2 separate regions of the Homo sapiens genome follow, and region 1 is linked to region 2. Evidence: fine-mapped expression QTL. A gene starts in region 2. The other region holds a variant in brackets. All regions are shown on one strand. Distances are from middle to middle. Region 1 has its middle 14 kb from the start of ARHGAP17. Region 2 holds the start of LINC02175 (long intergenic non-protein coding RNA 2175).

Region 1 (5,492 bases), 38 kb before region 2:
GGGAGGCTGAGGCAGGAGGATGGCATGAACCCGGGAGACAGAGGTTGCAGTGAGCTGAGATAGCCCCACTGCACTCCAGCCTGGGCAACAGAGCAAGACTCTGTCTCAAAAAAAAAGAAAAAAGAAGCATCATGCCTGTAATCCCAGCATTTTGGGGAGGAGGATTGCTTGAGCCCAGGAGTTGGAGACCAGCCTGGGCAGCATAGGGAAACCCTGTCTCTACAAAAAAATTAGCCAGGCACGGTGGCTCATGCCTTTAATCCCGGTACTTTGGGAAGCCAAGGTGGGTGGATCACTTGAGTTCAGGAGTTCAAGACAAGCCTGGCCAATGTGGTGAAACCCCATCTCTACTAAAAATACAAAAAATTAGCCGGGCGTAGTGGTGCACACCTATAATTTCAGATACTTGGGAGGCTGAGGCAGGAGAATAGCTTGAGTCCAGGAGGCGGAGGTTGCAGTGAGCCAAGATTATGCCACTGCACTCCACCCAGCCTGGGCGACAGAGCAAGACTCTAACTCAAAAACAAAAAAATTTTTTTTAATCAGCTAGACATGTTGGCACATGCATGTAGTCTCAGCTAGGCACACTCATGTGGGTGTGTCCAGAGGCTGAAGTGGGAGGATTTCCTAAGCCCAGGAGGTAGAGGCTGCAGAGTGAGACCCTGTTCAAATAATAATAATAATAGAAAAGTAAAAGAAACTCAATATCTTCCATTATAGCCTTCTTATAACCCAAGGAAGAGGCCTCAGAACCATGACTGATCTCTCTCTTTCTCTCTCCCCTGTATTTTTGAGACAGAGTCTCACTTTGTCACCTGGGCTGGAGTGCAGTGGCGCAACTTGGGCTCACTGCAACCTCCACCTCCCAGGTTCAAGCAATTTTCATGCCTCAGCCTCCTGAGTAGCTGGGATTACAGGTGTGCACCACCACAGCTGGCTAATTTTTTGTATTTTTAGTAGAGACGGAGTTTCACCATGTTAGCCAGGCTGGTCTCGAACTCCTGACTTCAGGTGAACTGCCTTCCTCGGCCTAACAAAGTGCTGTGTCTCTCTCTCTCTTTCACACCCCCTTCATATCCAATGAACCAATGAATATATCACATTTTGTTCCTCTTTTCCCTGTCCCCATGTCTGTGGTCCATTCCTTCCTGTCCTTATATGGACTGGGGCAATTGACTCCTTACTGACCTTGCTGGTTCCACTCCTGGCCTCCCTTGAATCCATTCCCCACACCGCCATGAGGGTGGACTTTCTGGCATGAAAATCTGATAACGTTGCTTACCTACTTTAAATTATTTCAGGAGTTTCCACTGCCTGGAGTCCAAACTTTAACAGGGTATTTGAGGACTTGCCTTTAGAGCCTTGCTTTCTACTCATAGACCACCCTCCAGCCACGTGTCACTTCTTGCAAACCCCAAACAGACTATTACCCAAATAACTTTAAACCCATAAGCCTAATCATAGCAGGGTGATGCCTTCAACAAAGTTTGCACTAGAAACATTTTACTTTTATTTTATTTATTTATTTATTTTGAGACAGAGGCTCCCTCTGTCACCCAGGCTGGAGTGGAGTGGGGCACGATCTCAGCTCACTGCAGCCTCCACCTCCTGGGTTTAGCACCTAACCACGAGAAAGAGGACCACAGGGCGAGGTAGTCTTCAAAAACATGAGCTTTACAGATGTCCCCCAGGCTGGCCAATACAGGCAATTGAGGGACCTGTGTGGCACTGGCATAGGAATTGTGGGTCCCCGCTGAGGTGTGACTAATCGATGACTGTGGTGACAGGGAAACAGGAGTGGAGGTGTGAAGGGATGATGTGCATTTTCCACTTTGTAACTTAAATAAGAGTTCTTCCAGGAGCACGTATGCCTCTCGAGCCTGCTGCTTGGGGATATCAGAGAAGTGGAAGGTTCTATTAATGCCTTCTCCAAGAGCCCATGAGGCACTGTGGATTCTGAGATGTGAAATAAGTACCCTGATCACTACCAGTAATGTGTAGGACTTCCAAGAGTATATGGAGTGCCACAGTGAGACCTTATATTGTGGCCTTTGTATACGTAGATGTAGAGATATCTTTTTTTTTTTTTTTAATTGAGAGAGAGTCTCACTCTGTCGCCCAGGCTGGAGTGCAGTGATACAATCTCAGCTCACTGCAACCTCCACCTCCTGGGTTCAAGTGATTCTCATGCCTCAGCCTCCCAGGTAGCCAGCTAATTTTTGTATTCTTAGTAGAGACTGCCATGTTGGCCAGGCTAGTCTCGAACTCCTGACTTCAAGTGATCCTCCTGCCTTGGCCTCACGAAGTGCTGAGATTATAGGCATAAGCCACCACACCCGACCATTTTAAAAACATGAGTTATCTATTACCTCGGTTTATATTTTCAGTATTTATGAGGCAAGAGATTCCCAGAGTTCTTTATGAGCACAAAGGGAACAATTCTTAGACAATGGCCCAAGAGTTTGCTATAAATATGGAGATGGAGTCATTTGTTGGCTAGGGCATTGCTGTGGTCTGAATGTTTCTGTCTCCCTGAAACTCAAATGCTGAAATTTTAACTCCCAGTGTATTAGGATGTGGGGCTCTTGTGAAGCGATCAGGCCACGAGGGCAGAGTTATCATGAATGTGATTAGTGTCCTTATAAGAGAGACCTGAGAGAGACACCTCGCTCCTTTGACCAAGTGAGGATACAGCAAGACAGCATCATCTATGAGTCAGAAAGCAGGCCCTCACCAGACACAGAATCTGCCTTGACCTTGGACTTGCCAGCCTCCAGAACCATGATAAATAAATTTCCGTGGTTTATTTTTATGTATGTATATATGTATTTATTTTTTGAGACAGGGTCTCTCTCTGTCACCCAGGCTAGAGTGCAGTGGTGCAATCATAGTTCACTGTAGTCTTGAACTCCTAGACTCAAGTGATCCTCCCCATCTCAGCCCAGTCCCAAGGCTGGGACTACAGGTACACTCCACCATACCCAGCTAGTTTTTAAATTTTTTTGTAGAGATGGGGTTTCGCCACATTGCCCAGACTGGTCTTGAATT[C/T]CTGAGCTAAAGTGATCTTCCCACCTTAGTCTCCCAAAGTGCTGGGATTATAGGTATTAGCCACTGTGCCCAGCCATTCTTTTGTTTATAAGTCACTTAGTTTATGATATTTTGTTATAGCAGCCAAAATGGACTAAGATAGCCATTCAGTGCTTACTGCCTGAAGTGTAGCCACTTGGGCTGACAGTGTACCATGTTTCAATTTAGTGGGATTCCAGGTGGTTCTTCTTCTTCTTTTTCTTCTTCCTCTTCCTCTTCTTCTTCTTCTTCTTCTTTTTTGAGATGGAGTTTTGCTCTTGTCACCCAGGCTGGAGTCCAATGGCACGGTCTCGGCTCACTGCAACCTCCACCTACTAGGTTCAAGTGATTCTCCTGCCTCAGTCTCCTGAGTACCTGGGATTACAGGCACCCGCCACCACACCTAGCTGATTTTTGTATTTTTAGTAGAGATGGGGTTTCAGCATGTTGACCAGGCTGGTCTCGAACTCTTGACCTCAGGTGAGCCGTGCACCTTGGCCTCCCAAAGTGCTGGGATTACAGGCATAAGCCACCGTGCCTGGCTGGATTCCAGGTGTTTTAAGGGTATCCCCACCCCTGTCCAAATTCCCTCAAGTTACAGGGTTTTTTTGTCATCAGATCACATGTGACTCTTCTCAGAGGTTATGAGGAAAGGGAGGCCAGCAGCCTGCTCTATGGGTAGCCATCCTCCTCCTCCAGAGAATGCCAGTCAATCTACTAGTGTCGTGGTCCACACCCAGTAAGTTCACTTTGTCTAGAGTCCAACTAACCAAATTTCCCTGAATTACCAGCTGTTTTGAATCAAGGCTCACCCAATAACAAAGGTGTGCCAATACATCTGCCTCCACCTTCTTCTAGTCACCTTCAGTCTCACCGTCCAGACCTGTGGGATTAACATCTTGTGCTACTTACTGTTTGACATTATCCACTAACACCCATGGAATTTAGACACTGCCAAGCTGGGAGACAATGCTTGCGCAGTGGTTTGTATTACCTTTTTGGTAGAGGAATGCTCCAACAAAATGGTGTATTTCAGCCCATTGCTGCTATCCCTGGCAAAACTTCCTAACCTCAGCCATTCCCCACTGTCATTTCTGCCTTGACTGTCAATGAGATCTTGTGTCTCCACTGAATACTAAGCAAGCATTTGCTATCTGATCTCACCCCAAGGTGTATATTCTGGGTTTCTGTTATTTTGCTTTAAAAAAAAAAAACTTATATAGAAAGGCAGTTTCATTGGCTCGTGGTTCTGCAGGCTTTACAGGAAGCATGGTGCTGGCGTCTGCTCAGCTTGTAGGCAGGGAAGCGAGAACATGCATATTTTACTTTCTGTGTCTGAGTTGTTTCACTTAAGATAATGGCCCCCAGTCGCAAGGATGTTGAGTTCTGCATGGCTGGGGAGGCCTCAGGAAACTTAACAGTTATGGTGGAAGGGGAAGCAGGTACATCTTACGTGGCGGCAGAAGAGAGAGAGCTATTTTGCTTTTTTAAATAGGTGTGATTCAAAGTTCTTAAAGTATACCCATTGCCTGTGTCCAACACCTGACAGATAATCAAGTGGAATACAGTAGCATAGTTCTTCTTTTATTTATAAAATATTTTATAACAAAACTAGTAAAAATAGATGCATCTTGAATATGCATCATAATGAAACAGACACACGTGAACTCACTCCCACCTGAGAAACTGAGAATGTGTCTATGTGCTCCTTCCCTGCCTCTCCCTACCCTCTCGTATGCTACCGTCCCACTCCCTAGAGGTCATCAATGTCCTGACTTTTTTTTTTTTCTCATGTCTTGGCTTTTCTGTACAGTATTTTACCGTATATGTATGTTTCTCTAAACAACATTAGTTTTACTTGGTTTGAACTTTACAAAAGTGTCGTTAGACTTCCTTCTTTCACTGAACATCACGTTTCTGAAATTCAGCCCTTGATGCTACCTGAGAGTTCGAGTTCATTGATTTTTACTGCCACGTGGTTTCCCATTCTATTACTTTTCCACACGCTACTTCCTTTACTACATTTCAAAGGCGATTATGTCTCTAAAGCTCTTAGCACAGTCCCTGGCATGGACAGCACTTAACAAAATTTTGTTAAACTGTTGAGTGACAACGAGCCCAGACTGAACGTAACAGCTGACATTTGCTTCTGGCTGGATTCTCTGCCCTTAAAATTCCGTGACGAGTCAGAAGAAACCTGGTGGCCTCTCCAGGCACCTAAGACTACACTTCCCAGAAAGCATCGCGGTACTCCGCCACTGACTTTTAGTTTCCTTTCTCCGTCGGCAAACTTCCGGGTTGGGTGGGCGGGGCCAAAAAACTTATCCAATGAGTACCTTTGTAGGCTGAGAGGAAGGGATAATTGCCCAATGAGCGACTAGGCAGAGGAGCCAATAGGCGGAGAGGCTGCTGGGGCAGCCGGCCTC
Region 2 (5,209 bases):
TTTGGAAGCTGGCTGGTGCCCACAACAAGGCCATGTTGTTCTCCTATTGGACATAAACAATCATGCAGACCACTCACACAAGGACACTCTGCAGTGGTGATGATAGGAGATGACACGAGACCACGTCATCATTCTGTGTAAGGACAAAAGCAAGGTCACTGTGCCACCCACAGAATACCAGACATTCCCTTCTCCCAGCTGATAGGAGTGACTGTGGCTTCTTTACACATTGTAGCTTTAGCCCTACTCCAGCCAAACCTCTTTCTAGAAAAGATACCGCTACCGGATGATAGAATTTTCCTACCTCCTATCAGCACTCGATCCAGAGCAAACCCCTGGACCCTCCCCCAAATCACCCAGCCAAAGCCCAGATCCTAAAGGTCTAACATCCTCTTACTGATAGGCTCCTCATGGTGTGAGTCTTCCCTCCTTGCAACAAGTAATAAACCCAACTTGCTTAACTACAAAGTGTTTCATGTGGTCTTTACTGGAGGACATTCACAACTGTAAGAGTAAAAAAGGATGGTTAAGTTTCTTGGGGAAGTTAAGGGAGTCTCATTCTGAGGGCTCCCATTTTCTATGTTAAGCAATAGGTGAAATTATCTTCTTTCTTTATTTTTTGAGATGAGGTCTCACTCTGTCACCCAGGCTGGAGCCCAGCAGCGTGAATATGGCTCAATGCAGCCTTGACCTCCTAGCCTCAAGTGGTCCTCCCACCTCAGCCTCCCATGGAACTGGGACCACAGGCTCTCATCACCATACCTGGCTAATTTATATATTTTTTTTGTAGAGATAGGGCCTTACCATCTTACCCAGGCTGGTCTCGAACCTCTGGCTCAAGCAATCCTCCCATCTTGGCCTCCCAAAGTGCTGGGATTACAGGCGTGAACCACTATGCCACAGTTGAGTTTAGAATGTTTATTTAAAATCTTGTGACACTGAACTCAATGACTAGTTCTCGGAAAACTTACTTTTTAATAGTGTATTGTGGTGTAAGGCCTGAAATTAGGATTCATATCAAATTCTGTCTTTACATCCATTTAAATCAAGAGGGCCTCAAATGGCTGAACTCCAAGCCTCGCTCCCTGTCTGCTTCCGCAGATGAAATTCTCTGGCTAAACACTCTCCTTATTTTAGGGATCAGACACAGAGCCTGCTTATCCCCAAACAGTAGGCTTCAGTTCCCTGCCAGCTCAAGGACGAATTATTCAGACAAGCCAGTCACACCCTCCCGTGGGAACCAGGGCTCACTCTGCACTTTTGTTACTACAAAGCCTGCCTCCAGCAGCCCCTCCTTGTTACCGTGTTCCGGAGTGTAGCCTCCACATTGCCCTGCATAGTGTGCAGGGTCCTTCTCCCCTGGACTGGAGTATCTGTGACCAGTCAGCTGCTGTTGATTGCATCCGTCCTGCATCAAGTGTTGTGTGTTCGGCCATCCCCGTATCTCTGGGGGTGGGGACAGGGGCGGGGGCAGGAGCGTGGGGGGAAGGAATCCCTCTTTCATCAATGGAGTAAAGAGTGTGAATAAAACGATTGGCATCACAAACAGTGTGGCCCATCCTTGATTGAGGACCCCTGGTTAGCTTTAACTAGCTGCTCCTTTACTAAGTAGCTGGTTTTGTTTGTTTGTTTATTTATTTATTTAGAGACGGAGTCTTGCTCTGTCTCCCGGGCTGGAGTGCAGTGGCGCGATCTCAGCTCACTGCAACCTCCTCCTCCCGGGTTCAAGCGATTCTCCTGCCCCAGCCTCCCAAGTAGCTAGGACTACAGGCGCCCACCACCACACCAGGCTAATTTTTGTATTTTTAGTAGAGACGGGGTTTCACCATACTGGCCAGGTTGGTCTTGAACTCCTAGACCTTGTGATCCACCCACTTCAGCCTCCCAAAGTGCTGGGATTACAGGAGTGAGCCACCGTGCCCGGCCTAAGTAGCTGGTTTTATAAGGCGGCCAGGACTATTGAGAACATCACTGCCAGTTGCTGGCCAGCTTGCCCTTCAGCTAATGAGTTTTGTTATCTCAGTAGGTGTTGCCACTTCTTCCCACCCTGACGAACGTTAATGGACTGTATCTCCTTGTGAGGTCCCATCAGGTGTGGCCCGTGTCGGCCAGGTGGTTTCCCAGGCTCCCACCTGGGGGCAGCAGCAACACGACATCCTAACGGGTGGGTGCCTGAGTTCCACTAGAGTGAGGCTAGACTCTGTGGTCTTTGGTCTAGCCTCATGACCATCGCTCCATCACCGGCTGCTTGGGACAGCCAGGCAGACACTGTTTGGGAAAGTGTTCCAGCATAGTCCTGTGGATAACCCTTTTTCCTTTCCCCAAACACCAGGGTTTTTGGAACCATCACCTGGGAAGATTTAGGAATGGCTCCCTGGTGGTCTCCTAACAGCCTAAAGACCCCATGGGCTTTTCTTGGCGGTGTTGCTTATCTGCATGCCAAAGGACCAATCCTGTGGGCAAGGGGCTCGATGGCCCCACCTGGACCCTAGACAAAATGAACGTACTAGGGGGATCCCAGCACTGAAGATTTGCCTGGCCTTCCTGGGGGAGCAGTATGGCCGCCCACGGAGCCGGCTGCTGGTCTCCCTTTCCCATAACCTCCCGGAAGATCCACACCACGAATGATCTGATGGGGACAAAAACCCCGGGACTCGAGGGACCGTTGCGGCGGACCCTTAAAACACCTGGCAATCCCATTAAATTGAAACATGGTACATATTTTGCTCTTCTAGTTTTGGCTAATACGTTCTATTTAAAGGGTCTCCCAGCCACAGTTTGCCAGCGGGCAGGCGGCGCCGCAGGAAGTGACCGGGCAAGAACGGGGGTCGCCGCCCAGCTCGGCCTTCTGGTCTCTGCGCCCTCGGCCTGGGGCTCCAGGCCACAAGGGGAGGCCGTGCTGGGCGGGCCCGAAGGGGGTGGGCGGGGCCCCGGAAGAGACGTGGGGGCGGGGCCAACGGACCGCGGAGGCGGAGCCGCTACAGTCTGGGCGCTGGAGCGGTGGGAGCAGCGCTCGTCCGCCGTTGGGGCCCCCAGCCCGCGCGCGTGAAGCAGCTAGCCGACCAAGCCCCGGAAGGCGAGTGCCGGAGGGGGCGGGACAGCTCCTCCGGGGCCAGCGGGCACCAGGCTTGGGGGCTGAGGCCCAGCGGCCCGAGACCAACTGGGCTGACCGAGGCCGCCTCCCCGCCAGCCCTGGGGTCCACTGCCCGGGGAGCAGCTCCCTTCCCAGGTCAGACTCGGGCTTCATCCTCTCTTGCCGCGCGCCGAGCGGTTTTCAACTCTCACTGCTAGAATTCCTCCAACCACCCAGGATAGCAGGACCGAGATACATGGCCACCCATGACCCGGAGCGTCCACTTCCAGGGACAGGCAGTGGTGATTGGCTTCGGTTGTCATCTGTGCCATCTGTCCATGGTTCGAGAAGCTGCTGTTCACGTTTTGGGGAGGATCATGGTTTGAGGGCTCCCGTGGTAGAATTTGGGGAGCTCTCATAGGCAGAAGGCTGAGAAAAGTTGGTGCTGTGGGAAGTCAACTGGCAGCCGATGGAGTCGGGACCCGGGAGGAATGGAAAGGGAACCCAGATAGGAAGCTACTGCAGTAGGCTCAGAGAGGTGATGACGGCAGGGCTAAGACAGCGGCCTTGGGCGGTGACTGGGAAGAACGTTGAACACCGTGTTTGGGCTGAAGAAAAGAGCAAGGGAAGAGGTGAGGAACTTCAGGTGAGGGTTGATGTAGATGTTACTTACACAGGTAACAGACATTCTTCACCTTTTCATTGTTTTACAATGATTCATTCTCTCTCTCTCTAACATATAATTGTGATATTTTCACCTGTAGTCCCAGCTGCTCTGGAGTTTGAGGCAGGAGGATGGCTTGAACCCAAGAGGTGGAGGCTGAAGTGAGCCAAGATCGCGCCACTGCACTCCAGCCTGGGCGACAGGGCAAAACCCTGTCTCTAAAAAGAACTTTTTAAAAAAGCACCTGTAGATTTAAGCACATAATAACTACACTTTTGTCTGTTTTATTATGATATCAAAGTTAAATTTATGATGAATGACTAACTGGACAAAACTGAGAGCAACCACCACAGAGGTGAATATACTGAATGTATAACACTCTCTAATAATTTTAAGAACTCCGCTCTAATGAGCAGATATCACAGAAAGAGACTTTTCAGATGAAATACCGATGACCAGGAAATCTGTGAGACCATTTTAAAAAATTCGAAGTCATTGAAGAAATGCAAAGCTTCCAGGCTCCACTTTTCACTGATGAAATTGGCAGAGTTTGGGACAATGAGATGTTGCTGTCCCGGGAGTGCGGATGGGGCTGTGTCCTGTGATGGCGGTGGGCACTGGCACTCTTGTCCAGAAAGACATTCACCACTGTGGTTCAAGAAGCACCTCAAAGGTCTTCACCTTGGTCCCTTGTCCACCTCTGCCCGCGGTCTCTCCTCCTTTCAGCCTCCTCTTTCCCACACAGTCCCTCCCGCCCTGGCTTGGTCCCCTTTCTTCTGACTGGGTCAGGCATGTGGGTGACTCTTTGACTTCCAAGGCTCTGTCTACTTGGCTTTTTTCTTTCACCTGTTCTGCAGAATAACAGCCTGATTCGTTCCTCTTTTTGGGTCCTTCACTTCCATACCTGGGATTCGGGGCGTGGCCCAGAAAGACCCTGCAGTCTTGCAGTGTGGGGCTGCCAGCATTTCATGGCCTCCAAGCTCAGCTGGGCTGAATGAACGCTGCCATCCAGCGCTTGGCTCATTTTCTGTCCCATTTTCCTGAGTGCTTTTGCCAGACTTACACTTTTCTGAAAGCTACTCCACCCTACCCCAGACACACCCTCTCTCCTCGGATGACCTGCCTCCTAATTTCCTGAGAAAACTGGACATGGCCACCTTTCCCCAGTGTCTGAGGCCCAGGTTGACCCGTGGTCATGGTCGCTGTCACCACCCACCTGCCTGTATGACAGAGTGAGACCCTGTCTCAAAAAAAAATAAAAAGAATGCCTCATGTTAGGCTGGGTGTAGTGGCTTATGCCTGCAATCCCAGCACTTTGGGAGGCTGAGGCAGGAGGATAGTTTGAGCCCAGGAGTTCAAGGTCAACCTGGGCAAGAGAGGGAGACCCTGTCTCTACAGTTAATTTTTAAAAATTAAGGCAGGGCATGATGGCTCGTGCACGTAATCCCAGCACTTTGGGAGGCTGAGTCAGG

The links. PIP is the estimated chance that this variant, and not a neighbour inherited with it, causes the effect. A credible set is the group of variants that fine-mapping cannot tell apart.
Region 1: its variant is the best candidate, but not a certain one, in a credible set for the expression of LINC02175 in anterior cingulate cortex (GTEx, PIP 0.58).

What each region holds. Positions count from the first base shown.
Region 1 is chr16:25,026,243-25,031,734 of GRCh38, forward strand. No RefSeq gene overlaps it. Among named protein-coding and RNA genes, the nearest start is that of ARHGAP17, 14 kb to the left of the region's middle. RefSeq lists an enhancer at 5,225-5,404. The variant C/T (reference allele first, on the strand shown) is at 3,049.
Region 2 is chr16:25,063,942-25,069,150 of GRCh38, forward strand. It overlaps LINC02175 (long intergenic non-protein coding RNA 2175), which reads left to right and starts at 2,946. Exons shown (of 2, transcript NR_135197.1): 1 at 2,946-3,705; 2 at 3,838-5,014. RefSeq lists a silencer at 2,849-3,238.